Regions from separate parts of the Homo sapiens genome. Here region 1 is linked to region 2. Evidence: fine-mapped expression QTL. Tissue or cell type: esophagus mucosa. Region 2 holds a variant in brackets; the other region holds the start of a gene. All regions are shown on one strand. Distances are from middle to middle.

Region 1 (8,113 bases), 52 kb after region 2:
AGCCAGCTCTCATCTGGAACAGTCTTGTCTACCTTCGTCTGTCCTCCCAACCCAGGGTTCTGCCCTGAGGACAGTTCCCAAATCCTATGTGTAATTAACCAAGAGAAAGCAAACAGCTAGCCTGGGGTCCCCCATCTGCCCTCAGCTCACCTGGCCAGCCTTCCCCACCCCAAGGCCCTTGGATCCCCTGGCCCAGAGCTCCCGGTTGGCCGTGTGACCTGGGACCAGAGGCACCCTCCTCTGCCGGCAGAGTGAGGCGGGGCGTGTGGAGGCGGCAGCCTCTGCGTGAGCTCATTCTTAGGGTGTTTTTGTCGGGAACCAGTCAGACCACTGGGGGTGGGTGGGGTGGGAGGAGAGGGCCGAGGGGCCAGGGCCCCCAGAAGCCCAGGAGGCCTCTAGGTTGGGGGGAATGAGGATGGGGCCATGTGTTGGCTCCCAGGCAACAGATGGACCCTGGGGGAACAGGGGCTCCGCCCTCCTCCATCGGACAAGCTTAGCCAGCCCAGGGCCTGTCGGGACACACGTGTGATAGGTGTGGTCCAGGTATGTCACACTGGCCATGTGACAGCTGAGAGTCTGAAGCCCAGCTCATAGTGGGTGGGGGCCCCCCTCTATGGGACTTCATGTGGTTGTATGTGGGTGACAAGGTCACAGAAACTTAGCTGGTGGTGCCTCTGGGGTCCTCATATACACACAAACACACTCCTCAGAAACACCTCACACACCCGCACCCTCCCTTCTTAAAGACACAATGCAACATACACATTTTCCTCTCCGAAATACAATTTGACACACACACGCACTCTCCCTTCTCTCCAATACAACATGGGGCCAGGTGTAGTGGCTCACGCCTGTAATGCCAGCACTTTGGGAGGCCAAGGTGGGTAAATCACTTGAGGCCAAGAGTTCAAGACCAGCCTGGCCAACAGGGTGAAACCCTGTCTCTACTGGAAAAAAAAAAAAAAAAATAGCAGAGCATGGTGGCGCATGCCTGTAGTCCCAGCTACTTGGGAGGCTGAGGCAGGAGAATTGCTTGAACCCGGGAGGCGGAGGTTGCAGTGAGCCAAGGTCGCACCACTGCAATCCAGCCTGGGCAACAGAGTGAGACTTCATTTAAAAAAAAAAAAAAAAAAGACGGTACACACACACACCCTCCCAGAAATACAGTTACACACACACACACACACACACACTCCCTCATTAGAAACACAATGTAGGCCGGGTGCGGTGGCTCACACCTGTACTCCGAGCACTTTGGGATTTTGGCTGAGGCAGGAGGATCACTTGAGCCCAGGAGTTCAAGACCAGCCTGGGAAACATAGTGAGACCCCATCCCTACAAAAATAAAAATAAAAAAATTAGCTGGGTGTGGTGATGGTGTACCTGGAGGCTGAGGTAGAAGGATTGCTTGAACCCAGGAGGTTGAAGCTGCAGTGAGCCATGATAGTGCCACTGCACTCAGCCTGGGTGAAAGAGTAAGACCCAGTCAAAAAAGAAAGAAAGAAAGGACAGCATAATATACATTCTCCTCTTAGAACACGCACTCACTTTCTCCTATTAAATATACAACTCAGTAAAAACATTTACATTTTCCTTTTAGAAATACAACCTAAGACAACACACTGACTCAGGCACACACATATACTATTCTTTCAAAAACAATCTGTATACACTCCCAACACACAGGTATATTCTCTTAGAAATAAAAACCAAGCCTGGGCGCGGTGGCTCACGCCTGTAATCCCAGCACTTTGGGAGGCCGAGGTGGGTGGATCAGTTGAGGTCAGGAGTTTGAGACTGGCCTGGCCAACATGGTGAAACCCCGGCTCTACTAAAAATACAAAATTAGCCAGGCATGGTGGTATGCGCCTGTAGTCCCCAGCTACTCATGAGGCTGAGGCATGAGAATTGCTTGAACCTGAGAGGCGGAGGTTGCAGTGAGCCAAGATCACGCCACCACACTCCAGCCTGGGTGACAAGAGCAAAACTCCGTGTCAAAAAGTGATAATATTATTTAAAAAAAAGAAAGAAAAGCCAACCCACGCAGAAACTAACTCTGTCTCTCCCACTCCCCAAATCACTCACATTCAGACCATCTCCTTGCACTTGACCGTGACACTCGCTGTCCCCCGAACTCACATGGCTCCCAAGCAGCCAACTCCCCACAATGTGCCCAACGCACCTCCAGATGCACACACTCCCAAGATTCACTATGGATCCCTCGCCAGTTTCCCTACTTCCTCTCCCTCCCACTCCAGGCCTGGCCAGCAGGGACTCCCACACCTACACGCCATGCACACACAAGTACTCAGATTCAGCTCCACTGTCGGAACAGAGAGCTGTGAATACGCGTGGAGGGATGCCACGTTCTCGCACACTTCACTCAAGCCACTGCATCCACCATAAGCAGCCCAGCGGTTTTTGCACATGTTGTACATGCACGATCACATACAGTAAGGGTCCTGTACGTTTTGTGCACCACAGACTTGATCGTCATTGATCTCTCCCTCTCTCTAGATATATGTATGTGTATATATGTGATGTATATATCAACCTTTAAAAAATTTAATTTTATTTTTTTGAGACTGAGTCTCGCTCTGTTGCCCAGACTGGAGTGCAATGGCATGATGTTGGCTCACTGCGATCTCCACCTCCCCAGGTTCAAGCGATTCTCCTCCCTCACCCTCCCAAGTAGCTGGAATTACAGGTGCCCGCCACCACACCTGGCTAATTTTTGTATTTTTAGTACAGACGGGGTTTCACCATGTTGGCCGGGCTGGTCTCAAACTCCTGACCTCAAATGATCCACCCGCTCCCCCCTTGGCCTCCCAAAGTGCTGGGATTACAGGCGTGAGCTACCGCGCCCAGCCAACCTTTTTTTAATTTTTAAAAAACTAAACTATGCCCAGCTAATTTTTGTTTTTGTAGAGACGGGGTATCACCATATTGCCCAGGCTAGTCTAGGATTCCTGGGTTCAAGCAATCCCCGCCGCCTCAGCCTCCCAAAGTGTTGAGATTACAGGTATGAGCCACTGCACCCGGCCAATCTGTGTGCTTGTGTATATCACACCATACCTATTCTCACACCTCACACACAAACATCATAAATGGTTGAACTCACAACCACACAGGTTCAAGAGTCATCCTGACAACCACAACCATTCTTCACACAATTTTGCCGATGTAAAACCTCCCTCTATAACCTCAGACACAGCCTTACACACACCACTCCACAGCCAGATTGACAACCACAGCAACAAACACGGCTCAACCACAGCCATCCAGCACTCGGGCTGTGTCCCAGACACACAGCAGCTCCCACACTCACACAGAGCCCCGGGTGCACAACCGCACAGCTGATAATCATAGGCACAGTCCCACACACTGATCCCTGACGCGGACCCCCTTTTCCATCCTGTCACCCGCTTGGAGGAGCATCCCACTTAAATGTCCACGTCTCCACTCCCATCTCCCACAAACTCTCCGTTGCACACCACTGCCAGCCACGGTATCAATGCAGATCACACACCCTCTAGTTCCTCTCTACACACACACACACACACACACACACGCACACACGGCTTCACACACCTCCACACCTCACTCATCCAACCCCAAGGTTCCACGCGCACCGTCCCATGAAACAGCTCCACTTCTGGACACAGTTCCGCCCAGCCCCATGCACCATCACAGTGACACACAATCAAAAGTCAATCATAGTCACCTATCACTGATCCAGTGCCACACTGTCCACCACACGCGCGCGCGCACACACACACACACACACACACACCAACAGGCAGAAAGACAACCACAGCCGCACAGCCTCTTGGTCAATCACACCTAATCCTACAACCAGTTCCACTCTCTGCCATGAAGACAGCCACACACACAGCCACACACATGCACATCAGGCCAAGCAGAAAGTCGACTACAGTCGCACTAGCTCTTGGTCGTAAAGTGCTACCAGCAATCCAATTCTACACACACACCATTCCAGTCAGAGGTCGCCCACGTTTTCACATTGCTAAAAGTGTCACATCATACACACAGTCCCATCACAGGGTTACACGGACAGTCGCTTTCACCCTCATACCCACAGCCTGACACACTCTCTTACACACACGCAAAGCCACACACACACACACACACACACACACAAACACAGGCAGGCAGGAGACTCCCATCGTGGCCCAGCCCCGCAAGCCGCACCAACTTACCCTGGCCTGCCCAGCCCCGCGCACCAGGCTCACCCGCAGTCACAAGGGCCCCCTCCCTCTCCCTCCCAGGCCCCGCCCCGTCCTCGCTGTTTACCTGCGCTGGGGTGGGGGGCATGGGACCCCAGCCAGGCCTCCAGATCCCGGAGAGCCCCAGGACGGGGCAGGGGGCATCCGGGAGCCCCAAGGCCCTTCCCCGTCTCAGGGCGAGCGGGCCCAGGGTTGCCCCCGCCCCCCATCATCGCGGCTCTCCGAGAGTCCCGCGCCCCACTCCCGGCACCCACCTGACCGCGGGCGGCTCCGGCCCCGCTTCGCCCCACTGCGATCAGTCGCGTCCCGCAGGCCAGGCACGCCCCGCCGCTCCCGCTGCGCCGGGCGTCTGGGACCTCGGGCGGCTCCTCCGAGGGGCGGGGCAGCCGGGAGCCACGCCCCCGCAGGTGAGCCGGCCACGCCCACCGCCCGTGGGAAGTTCAGCCTCGGGGCTCCAGCCCCGCGGGAATGGCAGAACTTCGCACGCGGAACTGGTAACCTCCAGGACACCTCGAATCAGGGTGATTGTAGCGCAGGGGCCTTGGCCAAGCTAAAACTTTGGAAACTTTAGATCCCAGACAGGTGGCTTTCTTGCAGTGCCTGCCCCAGAGCCTTTTCCTTGGTTGTGTGGCCTGCTTCGATCTCTCTTCCCACAGATCTCATCGTCTTTAGGTCTCTTCTCAAAGGCCACCTCCTCCGGCAGGCCTTCCCTGATTGCCCCCTTCTAAATGGCACCCTTCCACCAAAACATTACATACTCCTCTTGATTTTGTTCACAAAACTTTTCAGGGCCTAAAATTACCTTATTTATTTATTGAGAGGGAGTCTCGCTCCGTCACCCAGGCTGGAGTGCAGTAGCGCGATCTCGGCTCACTGCAACCTCCACCTCCCAAGTTCAAGCGATTCTCCCATCTCAGTCTCCCGAGTAGCTGCGACTACAAGTGTCTGCCACCACGCCCGGCTACTTTTTATATTTCTAGTAGAGACGGGGTTTCGCCATGTCGGCCAGGCTGGTCTCAAACTCCTGACCTCAAGTGATCCTCCCGCCTCGGCCTCCCAAAGTTCTGGGATTACAGGAGTGAGCCACCGCCCCCGGCCCCTAAAGTTATTTTATATAACATATATCACATCATTATGTTATGTTATATATTATGTTATTGGCAAGGGAATGTGATATCTAAGAATTGGGCTCAGGGTTCAAATTTGATTCCGGCACTTACTTGCTGTGCAGGCCTTGGGCAAGTAACTTAACCTCTCTGTGCCTCAGTTTCCCTAGTCAATAAAATATAAATAGTCTAAGGCTTTGAGAATTGAATGTTAACTAATACAGGGACAGTACTTTTTTTTTTTTTTTTTTTTTTTTGAGACACAGTCTCGCTGTGTTACCCAGGCTGGAGTACAATGGCGCTATCTTATCTTGGCTCACTGCAACTCCTGGGTTCAAGTCATTCTCCTGTCTCAGCCTCCCGAGTAGCTGGGATTACAGGCGCCCGCCACCATGCCCAGCTAATTTTTCCATTTTTAGTAGAGACGGGGTTTCCCCATGTTAGCCAGGCTGATCTCGAACTCCTGACCTTAGGTGATCTGCCCACCTCGACCTCCCAAAGTGCTGGAATTACAGGCGTGAGCCACCGCGCCTGGCCAGGACAGTACTTTTATCAGGGCCTCGCAAATAGAAAGTACTTAGTAAATACTCGCTACTGACTGTATATTATGGGTTCACTTTTTCTCCTCTACTATATAAGCTCTGAGGGCAGGGCTGTATATTGTCAGCACTGTTATCTTCAGCAAGAGCTTGATGCAAAGTCGGTGCTCAATAAATTGTGACTGAATGAAGGAATCAAGTCCTAGAATAGTAAGCTGGCCAAAGCTGGGAGGACACGATTCTAATATAACTTGAGGACGGCGCAGTGGCTCACACCTGTAATCCCAGCACTTTGGGAGGCCGAGGGGGCTGGATCACTTGAGGTCAGGAGTTCGAGACCAGCCTGGCCAACATGGTGAAACCCTATCTCTACTAAAAATACAAAATTAGCCGGGTGTGGTAGCGCACGCCTGTAATCCCAGCTACTTGGGAGGCTGAGGCAGGCGAATCGCTTGAACCCCAGAGGCAGAGGTTGCAGTGAGCCGAGATCACACCATTACACTCCTGCCTGGGCAACAAGAGCGAAACTCCATCTCAAAAATAAATAAATGCATACATACATACATGGCTCAATGCGCGCGGTACCCCGGTCACTACACTATGAAATGCTTCCAGCAGAGGGCGCTGCTGGTCCGTGGACCAAACTCCAGACTCGGCACAGCTCCGCGCTCCCTCCGAATTGCAGCCAACGTGCCCTCTACTTCCCTGTTGTCTGAGCCCCAGTGCTGATGCTTCCTCCTCCAGGAAGCCCTTTCTTATTTCCCAGGTTTCCAGGCTCTTGGGCTCCCACATCCAGCCCTGCCAACTCTGGGTCATCAGTGTGGGGAGACAGGTCAGTCCCATATTAGACTATGAGCCCCAAGAAGGGAGGAGGCGGCCAGGGGCCATGTCAGTCTCCACTGTGTCCCCAGTGCCACCTAGCACAGGCCCAACGCAGAGAAGGCATTTGGGAGAATAGGTGCTGATTGAATCATGGAAATAAAAATTCAAACTCATATCCTAACTACTCCAGCATTTTTTTTTTTTTAAGACAGTCTTGCTCTGTTGCCCAGGCTGGAGTGCAGTGGCACGATCTTGGCTCATTGTGTAACCTCCGCTTCCCAGGTTCAAGCGATTCTCCCGCCCCAGCCTCCCAAGCAGCTGGGATTACAGGCACCCACCATCATGCCTTGCTAATTTTTATATTTTTGTAGAAATGGAGTTTCCCATGTTGGCCAGGCTGGTCTTGAACTCTTGACCTCAGGTGATCCACCCACTTCGGCCTCCCAGAGTGCTGGGATTATAGGCGTCAGCCACCATGCCCGGCCTACTCTAGCTTTTTTAAAAGACAGGTGTCACTCTGTCACCCAGGCTGGAGTGCAGTGGCAGTCGTAACTCACTGCAGCCTTGATTTCCCGGGTTTAAGCAATGCTCCCTCCTCAGCCTCCCAAGTCCCAGGTAGCTGGGACTACAAATGCACCACCATACCCAGCTACTTTTTGTTGTTTTTTGTAAAGATGGGGGTCTCCCTATATTGCCCAGGCTGGTTTTGAACTCCTGACCTCAAGCGATCCTCCTGCCTTGGCCTCCCAAAGTCCTGGGATTACAGGCATGAGCCACTGTGCCAAGCTCCAGCTATTTCTTTCTTTCTTCCTTTTTTTAATTAAGACAGCATCTCACTGGGAGTGGTGGCTCATGCCTATAATCCCAGCACTTTGGGAGGCCTAGGAGGGCGGATCACCTGAGATCAGGAGGGCGGATCACCTGAGATCAGGAGGGCGAGACCAGCCTGACCAATATGATGAAACCGTGTCTCTACTAAAATTACAAAAATTAGCCGGGCTTGGTGGCATGGGCCTGTAATTCCAGCTTGTCAGGAGGCTAAGACAGGAGAATCACTTGAACCAGGGAGGCGGAGGTTGCAGTGAGCCAAGATGGCGTCATTGCACTCCAGCCTGGGCAACAAGAGCAAAACTCCATCCCCTAAAAAAAAAAAAAAAAAGACAGTGTCTCTGTTGCCCAGGCTGGAGTGCAATGGCATGATCTCGGCTCACTGAAACCTCCATCTCCCGGGTTCAAATGATTCTCCTGCCTCAGCCTCCAGAGTAGCTGGGATTACAGGTGTGCACCATCACGCCCAGGTAATTTTTATATTTTTAGTATAGACAGGGTTTCGCCATGTTGGCCAGGCTGGTCTCGAACTCCTGACCTCAGGTGATCTACCCGCCTCGGCCTTCCAAAG
Region 2 (8,000 bases):
CCCCGGAAGGCGGCCACCGACGGCGCAGACACCCCGTTCGGACGATCAGAGAGTGCCCCAACCCTACACCCCTACAGCCCGCTGTCCCCCAAGGGACGGCCGTCGTCGCCGCGCACCCCGCTCTACCTGCAGCCGGACGCCTACGGCAGCCTGGACCGCGCGACCTCGCCCCGGCCCCGCGCCTTCGATGGCGCAGGCAGCTCCCTCGGCCGTGCGCCCTCCCCGCGGCCCGGGCCAGGCCCGCTCCGCCAGCAGGGTCCCCCCACGCCTTTCGACTTCCTGGGCCGCGCAGGCTCCCCCCGCGGCAGCCCCCTGGCGGAGGGGCCCCAGGCCTTCTTCCCCGAGCGTGGGCCGTCACCGCGCCCCCCTGCCACAGCCTACGACGCGCCAGCGTCCGCCTTCGGGAGCTCCCTGCTAGGCTCCGGCGGCAGCGCATTCGCCCCGCCTCTGCGCGCGCAAGGTGAACCCAGGGGCCCCTCGCGGGGCCTTTGACTCGCGGGGTCAAAGCGGGCAGGATCCGGGGCTCGCCACCCCTCCCGTCTCATCCTCCCTGGAAACTTCTCCCCAGACGACCTGACGCTGCGCCGGCGGCCTCCGAAAGCCTGGAACGAGTCTGACCTGGACGTGGCGTACGAGAAGAAGCCTTCGCAGACAGCGAGCTATGAACGTGAGTGGTGGAGGCCCGGGGAATGGAGGACCCGGAGGAGAGGCAGCCCCACAGACCCTAATGATTCCCGCCCCGCAGGCCTGGACGTCTTCGCAAGGCCTGCCTCGCCGAGCCTGCAGCTGTTGCCTTGGAGGGAGAGCAGCCTGGATGGACTGGGGGGCACCGGCAAGGTGAGGAGGCGACGCCTGGGGAGGAGAGGCTGGGGAAGGTCGAGGAGTGGGGTGGGGGAGCGGGGTCAAGGCCAGTCTCCCCCTCGGGGCTGCGATCTGGGTCTCGGCGCCCGTTCCCACGCTCTCCCTTCACTGTGCTGGGTTTCTGCTCCTTCCTCACCCTTTCTTCTCCCTCACTCCCAGGGCTTCCCTCACCTCCTCTCCCTTCTCGTCTTTTGTCTTTACCTCCCCTCCACCTTCCCTCTCTCACCCGATCCCCTTCTCCCTTCCCTCTTCCCCAGGACAACCTCACTAGCGCCACCCTGCCGCGCAATTACAAGGTCTCTCCTCTGGCCAGCGACCGGCGTTCAGACGCGGGCAGCTACCGGCGCTCGCTGGGCTCCGCGGGGCCGTCGGGCACTTTGCCTCGCAGCTGGCAGCCCGTCAGCCGCATCCCCATGCCCCCCTCCAGCCCCCAGCCCCGCGGGGCCCCGCGCCAGCGTCCCATCCCCCTCAGCATGATCTTCAAGCTGCAGAACGCCTTCTGGGAGCACGGGGCCAGCCGCGCCATGCTCCCTGGGTCCCCCCTCTTCACCCGAGCACCCCCGCCTAAGCTGCAGCCCCAACCACAACCACAGCCCCAGCCACAATCACAACCACAGCCCCAGCTGCCCCCACAGCCCCAGACCCAACCCCAAACCCCTACCCCAGCCCCCCAGCATCCCCAACAGACATGGCCCCCTGTGAACGAAGGTGAGTCAGCAATGAGGGCCCTAGAGGACTGGGTGAAGGGAGGACAAATGGCAGGGGGACCAGACCAGCCCTGGGAGGTGGGGAGATCACAGCCAAATGCCTCTTTACAAGCACTGTCCCTGCAGAGAGCTAGGCCAGGTGAGTTTGGGAATTTGGGTAGGAGCCAGGGATAGCTCAAAGGTTAAGTGTGGACCCTGAAGCCAGACTGCCTGGTTCCACGCTGTGTGACCTTGGGCAAGTCACTTAACCTCACTGGGCCTCAATTTTCTTGAGTGTAAAAGGGAAATAATGGGCCGGGCACGGTGGCTCATGCCTGTAATCCCAGCACTTTGGGAGGCCGAGGCGGGCGGATCACAAAGTCAGAAGTTCGAGACCAGCCTGGCCAATATGAAACCCCATCTCTACTAAAAATACAAAAATTAGCCAGGCATGGTGGCGGGCGCCTGTAGTCCCAGCTACTTGGGAGGCTGAGGCAGGAGAATCACTTGGACCCGGGAGGTGGAGGTTGCAGTGAGCCGAGATTGCGCCACTGCAGTCCATCCTGGGTGACGGGGAGACTCTGCCTCAAAAAAAAAAAAAAAAAAAAAGGCAAATAATGATAGAATCGATCCTATTGACATATGTTATTAAATTCATATAAAGCCTTTAAAACAGCACCTGATGGGCCAGGTGCAGTTGCTCACACCTGTAATCCCAGCACTTTGGGAGGCCGAGGTGGGCAGATCACTTGAGGTCAGGAGTTCAAGACCAGCCTGGACAACATGATGAAATCCCATCTCTATCAAAAAAAAAAAAAAAAAAAAAAATTAGCTGGGCATGGTGGCTCACCACTGTAGTCCTAGCTACTCAGCTTGAGCCAAGGAGGCGGAGGTGGCAGTGAGCCAAGATCATGCCACTGCACTCCAGCACAGGTGACAGGGTGAGACTCTGTCTCAAAAATAAATAAATAAATAGGATCTGATACATAGTAAGCTATCAATAGCTACCATATTAGCCAGGCACCGTGGCTCACCCTTGTAATCCTAGCAGTTTGGTGGGCTAATGCAGACAGGATTGCTTGAGCTCTGGAGTTCAAGACCAGCCTGGGCAACATAGTGAAACTAAAATAGACTTTACTAAAAATAAAAGTACAAAAAATCTGCCGGGCATGGTAGTGGGCGCCTGTAGTCCCAGCTACTCAGGATGCTGAGGTGGGAGGATCATTTAAGCCTGGGAGATCCAGGCTGCAGTGAGCTGTGATAGCGCCACTGCACTCCAGCCTGGGTGACAGAGTGAGACCCAGTCTCAAATAAATAGCTACCATATTAGTTATAATAATTTATTAATATTTTGAGGTGTGAGATCAGTGAGTTAAGCAGATGGGCTGGAGTCTCTCTTCACTGCTAACTTGCTGTGTGACTGAAGATAAATTACTTGTCCGAAACTCTGTTTCCCGTCTGTGAAGAGAGATTAATAATATCTACCCTATAGAATTGTGACGGGGATTCAATGAAATAATGTGTATGTGTGTGTGTTTTGGGGTTTATTTATTTATTTATTTTTGAGACAGAGTTTCACTCTTTTTTTTTGAGACAGAGTCTCGCTCTTTCTTCCAGGTTGGAGTGCAGTGGTGCTTGCTCACTGCAAGCTCCGCCTCCCGGGTTCACGCCATTCTCCTGCCTCAGCCTCCCGAGTGGCTGGGACTACAGGCGCCCACCACCACCCCCAGCTAATTTTTGTATTTTTAGTAGAGACGGGGTTTCATCATGTTAGCCAGGATGGTCTCGATCTCCTGACCTCATGATCTGCCCACCTCGGCCTCCCAAAGTGCTGGGATTACAGGCGTGAACCACCGTGCCCAGCCAAGATGGAGTTTCACTCTTCTTGCCCAGGCTGGAATGCAGTGGTGAGGTTTCAGCTCACTGCATCCTACACCTCCCAGGTTCAAGCGATTCTCCTACCTCAGCTTCCCAAGTAGCTGGGGTTACAGGCATGCACCACCACACCCAACTAATTTTTTGTGTTTTTAGTAGAGATGAGGTTTTGCCATGTTGGCCAGGCTGGTCTCGAACCCCTGACCTCAGGTGATCCACCCACCTCAGCCTCCCAAAGTGCTGGGATTACAGGCATGAGCCACCATGCTCAGCCGTGTGTGTGTGTGTGTATTATTTATATGTATATGCATACTATATAAAAATATATATACACTATATATATAATGTGTGTGTGTGTTTGTGTGTGTGTGTGTAT[A/G]TATATATATTTTGAGATGAAATCTCACTCTTTTGCCCAGGCTGGAGTGCAGTGGTGCAGTGGTGCAATCTCGGCTCACTGCAACCTCCGCCTCCTGGGTTCAAGCGATTCCTGTGCCTCAGCCTTCCGAGTAGCTGGGATTACAGGCATGTGCCACCACGCCCAGCTAATTTTTTTTTTTTTTTTTTTTTTTTTGTATTTTTAGTAGAGACAGGGTTTTACCATGTTGGCCAGGCTGGTCTCAAACTCCTGATCTCAAGAGATCTGCCTGCCTCGGCCTCCCAAAGTTCTGGGATTACAGGTGTGAGCCACTCGACTCAGCCAATAATGCATATTTTTATTTCCACCTGCTTTACTGTCAGAATGAGTAAGACAGAGAAGAAATCATTAAACACCAGGATTCTACTTCCTGCTGGAGTTTTCTGCCTGAGATGTTAGGAGAGGAAACTCTCAGGATCTCAGAAAATCACATCTATCACGGTTGGTAGAAGTAGATTCTAGAGTCAGCCAGAACTGAGTTCAAGTCCCAACTGCATGGCTTTGGGCAACTGACTTGTCCTCTCTGAGGCCCAGATTCCCTTTCGGTAATGTGGAGATGGCAGTGTATCTACCTCACAAAGCAGTGGTGAGATTACAATAAGGTAGGCATGTAAAGCGCCAGGCACATACTAACTGCTCAATAAATGGGAGGCATCATAATTGTATATTATTCACAGCCCAAGGAAAGTGTAGCCCAGAGAGGGCAAGGAACTTCCCTGAGGTCACACAGAAAATCATGTGCTGGTTGTATGCCCTGGAAGTTGTGGAGAGGGAGTGTTGGGTGTCTCCTGGGGACCTGTCCTCTGATGGGCTCTTGTTCCGGCTAGGACCCCCCAAACCCCCCACCGAGCTGGAGCCTGAGCCGGAGATAGAGGGGCTGCTGACACCAGTGCTGGAGGCTGGCGATGTGGATGAAGGCCCTGTAGCAAGGCCTCTCAGCCCCACGAGGCTGCAGCCAGCACTGCCACCGGAGGCACAGTCGGTGCCCGAGCTGGAGGAGGTGGCACGGGTGTTGGCGGAAATTCCCCGGCCCCTCAAACGCAGGGGCTCCATGGAGCAGGCCCCTGCTGTGGCCCTGCCCCCTACCCACAAGAAACAGTACCAGCAGATCATCAGCCGCCTCTTCCATCGTCATGGGGGGCCAGGGCCCGGGGGGCCGGAGCCAGAGCTGTCCCCCATCACTGAGGGATCTGAGGCCAGGGCAGGGCCCCCTGCTCCTGCCCCACCAGCTCCCATTCCACCCCCGGCCCCGTCCCAGAGCAGCCCACCAGAGCAGCCGCAGAGCATGGTAAGTAATACAGGAGGAAACCGGGGTATGTTTGCTACATGAATCCAGGAGCTGTAGCAAAGAGCCCCCCAAATATAGTGGCTTAGATGAGATCGAAGTTTTCTCCTCTTTTGAGTAGAAGTCCAAGAGTTTGCAGCCCAGGACTGTAGGCACCTCACTGGAGTCAGGACCCAGGCTCTATCTACCTGGGGCTCTGCCATCCATCGGGGAGTAAGCCTGCCTTCATGGTCCTAGATGGCTGTCACCAAGTCTGCCCTCCAGCCAGGAAGAGAGAAAGAAGAAGAGAAAGTGCCCTTTCCTGTTTCAGGCAGAACCTGGGAGTTCCATACATCACTCTGCCTGCTCCCACTGGCCAGGAGCCTCATTGCAATGGGATGCTGGGAAATGTAGTCTTTAGGATAGCTGTGTGTGACTATATGGAGGGCCATCTGGGAGTCTTGGCCACATAGAGATGTTCTCTGCTCCTTCTCTCCAATAACCTGTGCCTGTGCCCTGCCCCGGGCATTCCTTCAGCAATCTCGAGTCATACACCTGGACATGACTGAGTCTTGGCACAACAGTGGGTTCATTCTGGGACTGAGAAGTCTTGCCTGAATCAAAGCAGTCACCCTCTCTTCTCTCCCTCTCTGTCTCTGTGTCTCTTGTGTCTGCTCTGCTCTCTCCTCTATTTTTTTTTTTTTTCCAGGCAGAGTCTTGCTCCATCACTCAGGCTGGAGTGCAGTGGCTTGACCTCGGCTCACTGCAACCTCCGCCTCCCAGGTTCAAGCCATCCTCCCGCTTTAGCTTCCCAAGTAGCTGGGATTATAAGTGTATGCCACCACTCCTGGCTAATTTTTGTATTTTTAGTAGAGATGAGGTTTCACCATGCTGGCCAGGCTGGTCTCAAACTCCTGACTTCAAATGATCCACCTGCCTCAGCCTCCCAAATTGCTGCAGTTAGAGGCATGAGCCACTGTTCCTGGCTTTGCTCTCTCCTCTTATAAAATAGTGAGTCTCGGCCGGGCGCGGTGGCTCACGCCTGTAATCCCAGCACTTTGGGAGGCCGAGGTGGGTGGATCATGAGGTCAGAGGTTCAAGTCCAGCCTGACCAACATGGTGAAACCCCCTGTCTACTAAAAAAATACAAAAATTAGCCCGGAGCGGTGGCGCGTGCCTGTAATTCTGTAGCAGGACGAGCCACAGACAAAACTCCTCAGACACCGGATTAAAGAAGGAAGAGGTTTTTATTCGGCCGGGAGCATCAGCGTCTTAAGAGCCGAGCTCCCCGAAAAAGAAATTCCTAGCACTTTTAAGGGCTTACAACGCTAAGGGGTCCACGTGAAAGGGCCACGATAGATCAAGTAAGCGTGAGGAACGTGACTGGGGGCTACAGACATCAGCTAACAGAACAAAACGTTTTACAGTGCTTTCTCATACAATGTCTGGAATTTACAGATAACACCAGTAGTTTTGGTCAGGGATTAATATTATTATTATTATTTTAACCACCAGGACCAGATGGTGGCGCCAAGGTCATCTAGCTATTTATCGTACTTCTGTTTTTTTCCAGCGTTTTGCTTTCTCCCTTTTTTTCCTGTCTTATAAACTAGGGAAAAGGGGAGGTGGGGGAGAAGCTGGGAAGGACAACAGGAGAAGTGGTGGTCTCATTCCAATCCCAGCTACTCAGGAGGCTGAGGCAAGAGAATCGCTTAAACCCGGAAGGCGGAGGTTGCAGTGAGCCAAGACTGCACCACTGCACTCCAGCCTGGGCGACAGAGCAAGACTCCATCTCTAAATAAATAAATAAATAGGCCGGGCGTGGTGGTTCATGCCTGTAATCCCAGCATTTTGGGAGGCCGAGGCGGGCGGATCACGAAGTCAGGAGATAAGACCATCCTGGCTAACACGGTGAAACCCCGTCTCTACTAAAAATACAAAAATTAGCTGGGGGTGGTGGCGGGCGCCTGTAGTCCCAGCTACTCTGGAGGCTGAGAGGAGAATGGCGTGAGCCCGGGAGGCGGAGCTTGTGGTGAGCTGAGATCGCGCCACTGCACTCCAGCCTGGGTGACAGAGCAAGATTCCGTCTCAAAAAAAATAAAAATAAAAATAAATAAATAAATAAATAAAAACAAGTGAGTCTCGGCTGGGTGCTGGACTCCACCTCCTGGGTTAAAGTGATTCTCCTGCGTCAGTCTCCCAAGTGGCTGGGATTACAGGCATATGCCACCACGCTTGGCTAATTTTTGTATTTTTAGTAGAGATGGGGTTTCACTGTGTTGGCTAGGCTGGTCTTGAACTCCTGACCTCAAGTGATCTGCCCGCCCTGGCCTCCCAAAGTGCTGGGATTACAGGTGTGAGCCACCACACCCCGCCAAGATTAAATACATTAATGTAGTGCTTAGCATAATACCTGGCACATAACTGTTAACTGCTCTTACTGTTGTCACCATTGGACCAGGGGATGGTCTCCTGCTGATCTTGGTCCCTGCATCTTGACTGGGAAGAGGGTTGTAGCCACATGGAACAGTCCTGAACACTCCGTGTGCGTAGACAGCGGGAAGAGATCACTTCTCAGAGAAGCAGGGGTCAGGTGGACCCCCCCAAAATGCCTATTCCTAGGCCCTCCTGAAAGTAAAGGCAAGGAACCTTGAGGCTCAGGATTTTGAAATCAAGAGGGGATGAATAACAACATGTTGAAATGGCTGAGCATCCCATTGTAGAATCACAGAGTCCTGGCCACAGAGAAACTTAAAAAATCATAGAATGTAAGAATCAAACGCTAGTGTCACCGTCTTAGGATAGTAACATTTTAGAGCCCTAGAGCATTTAAAGGTTTGAACACGATCTTAGAATTATAAAGTTAGGCTGGGCACGGTGGCTCATGCCTGTAATCCCA

What was found. PIP is the estimated chance that this variant, and not a neighbour inherited with it, causes the effect.
Region 1: KLC3 starts here. The variant in region 2 is fine-mapped to the expression of KLC3 in esophagus mucosa (GTEx, PIP 0.94).

What each region holds. Positions count from the first base shown.
Region 1 is chr19:45,337,235-45,345,347 of GRCh38, reverse strand. It overlaps KLC3 (kinesin light chain 3), which reads right to left and starts at 4,598. Exons shown (of 13, transcript NM_177417.3): 1 at 4,502-4,598. RefSeq lists a silencer at 4,613-4,702.
Region 2 is chr19:45,389,005-45,397,004 of GRCh38, reverse strand. PPP1R13L (protein phosphatase 1 regulatory subunit 13 like) reads left to right here. Exons shown (of 13, transcript NM_006663.4): 4 at 1-460; 5 at 569-667; 6 at 746-837; 7 at 1,119-1,569; 8 at 4,665-5,125. Among named protein-coding and RNA genes, the nearest start is that of PPP1R13L, 12 kb to the left of the region's middle. RefSeq lists enhancers at 4,406-4,922, 4,923-5,441, 5,403-5,452, 5,703-5,762. The variant A/G (reference allele first, on the strand shown) is at 3,799.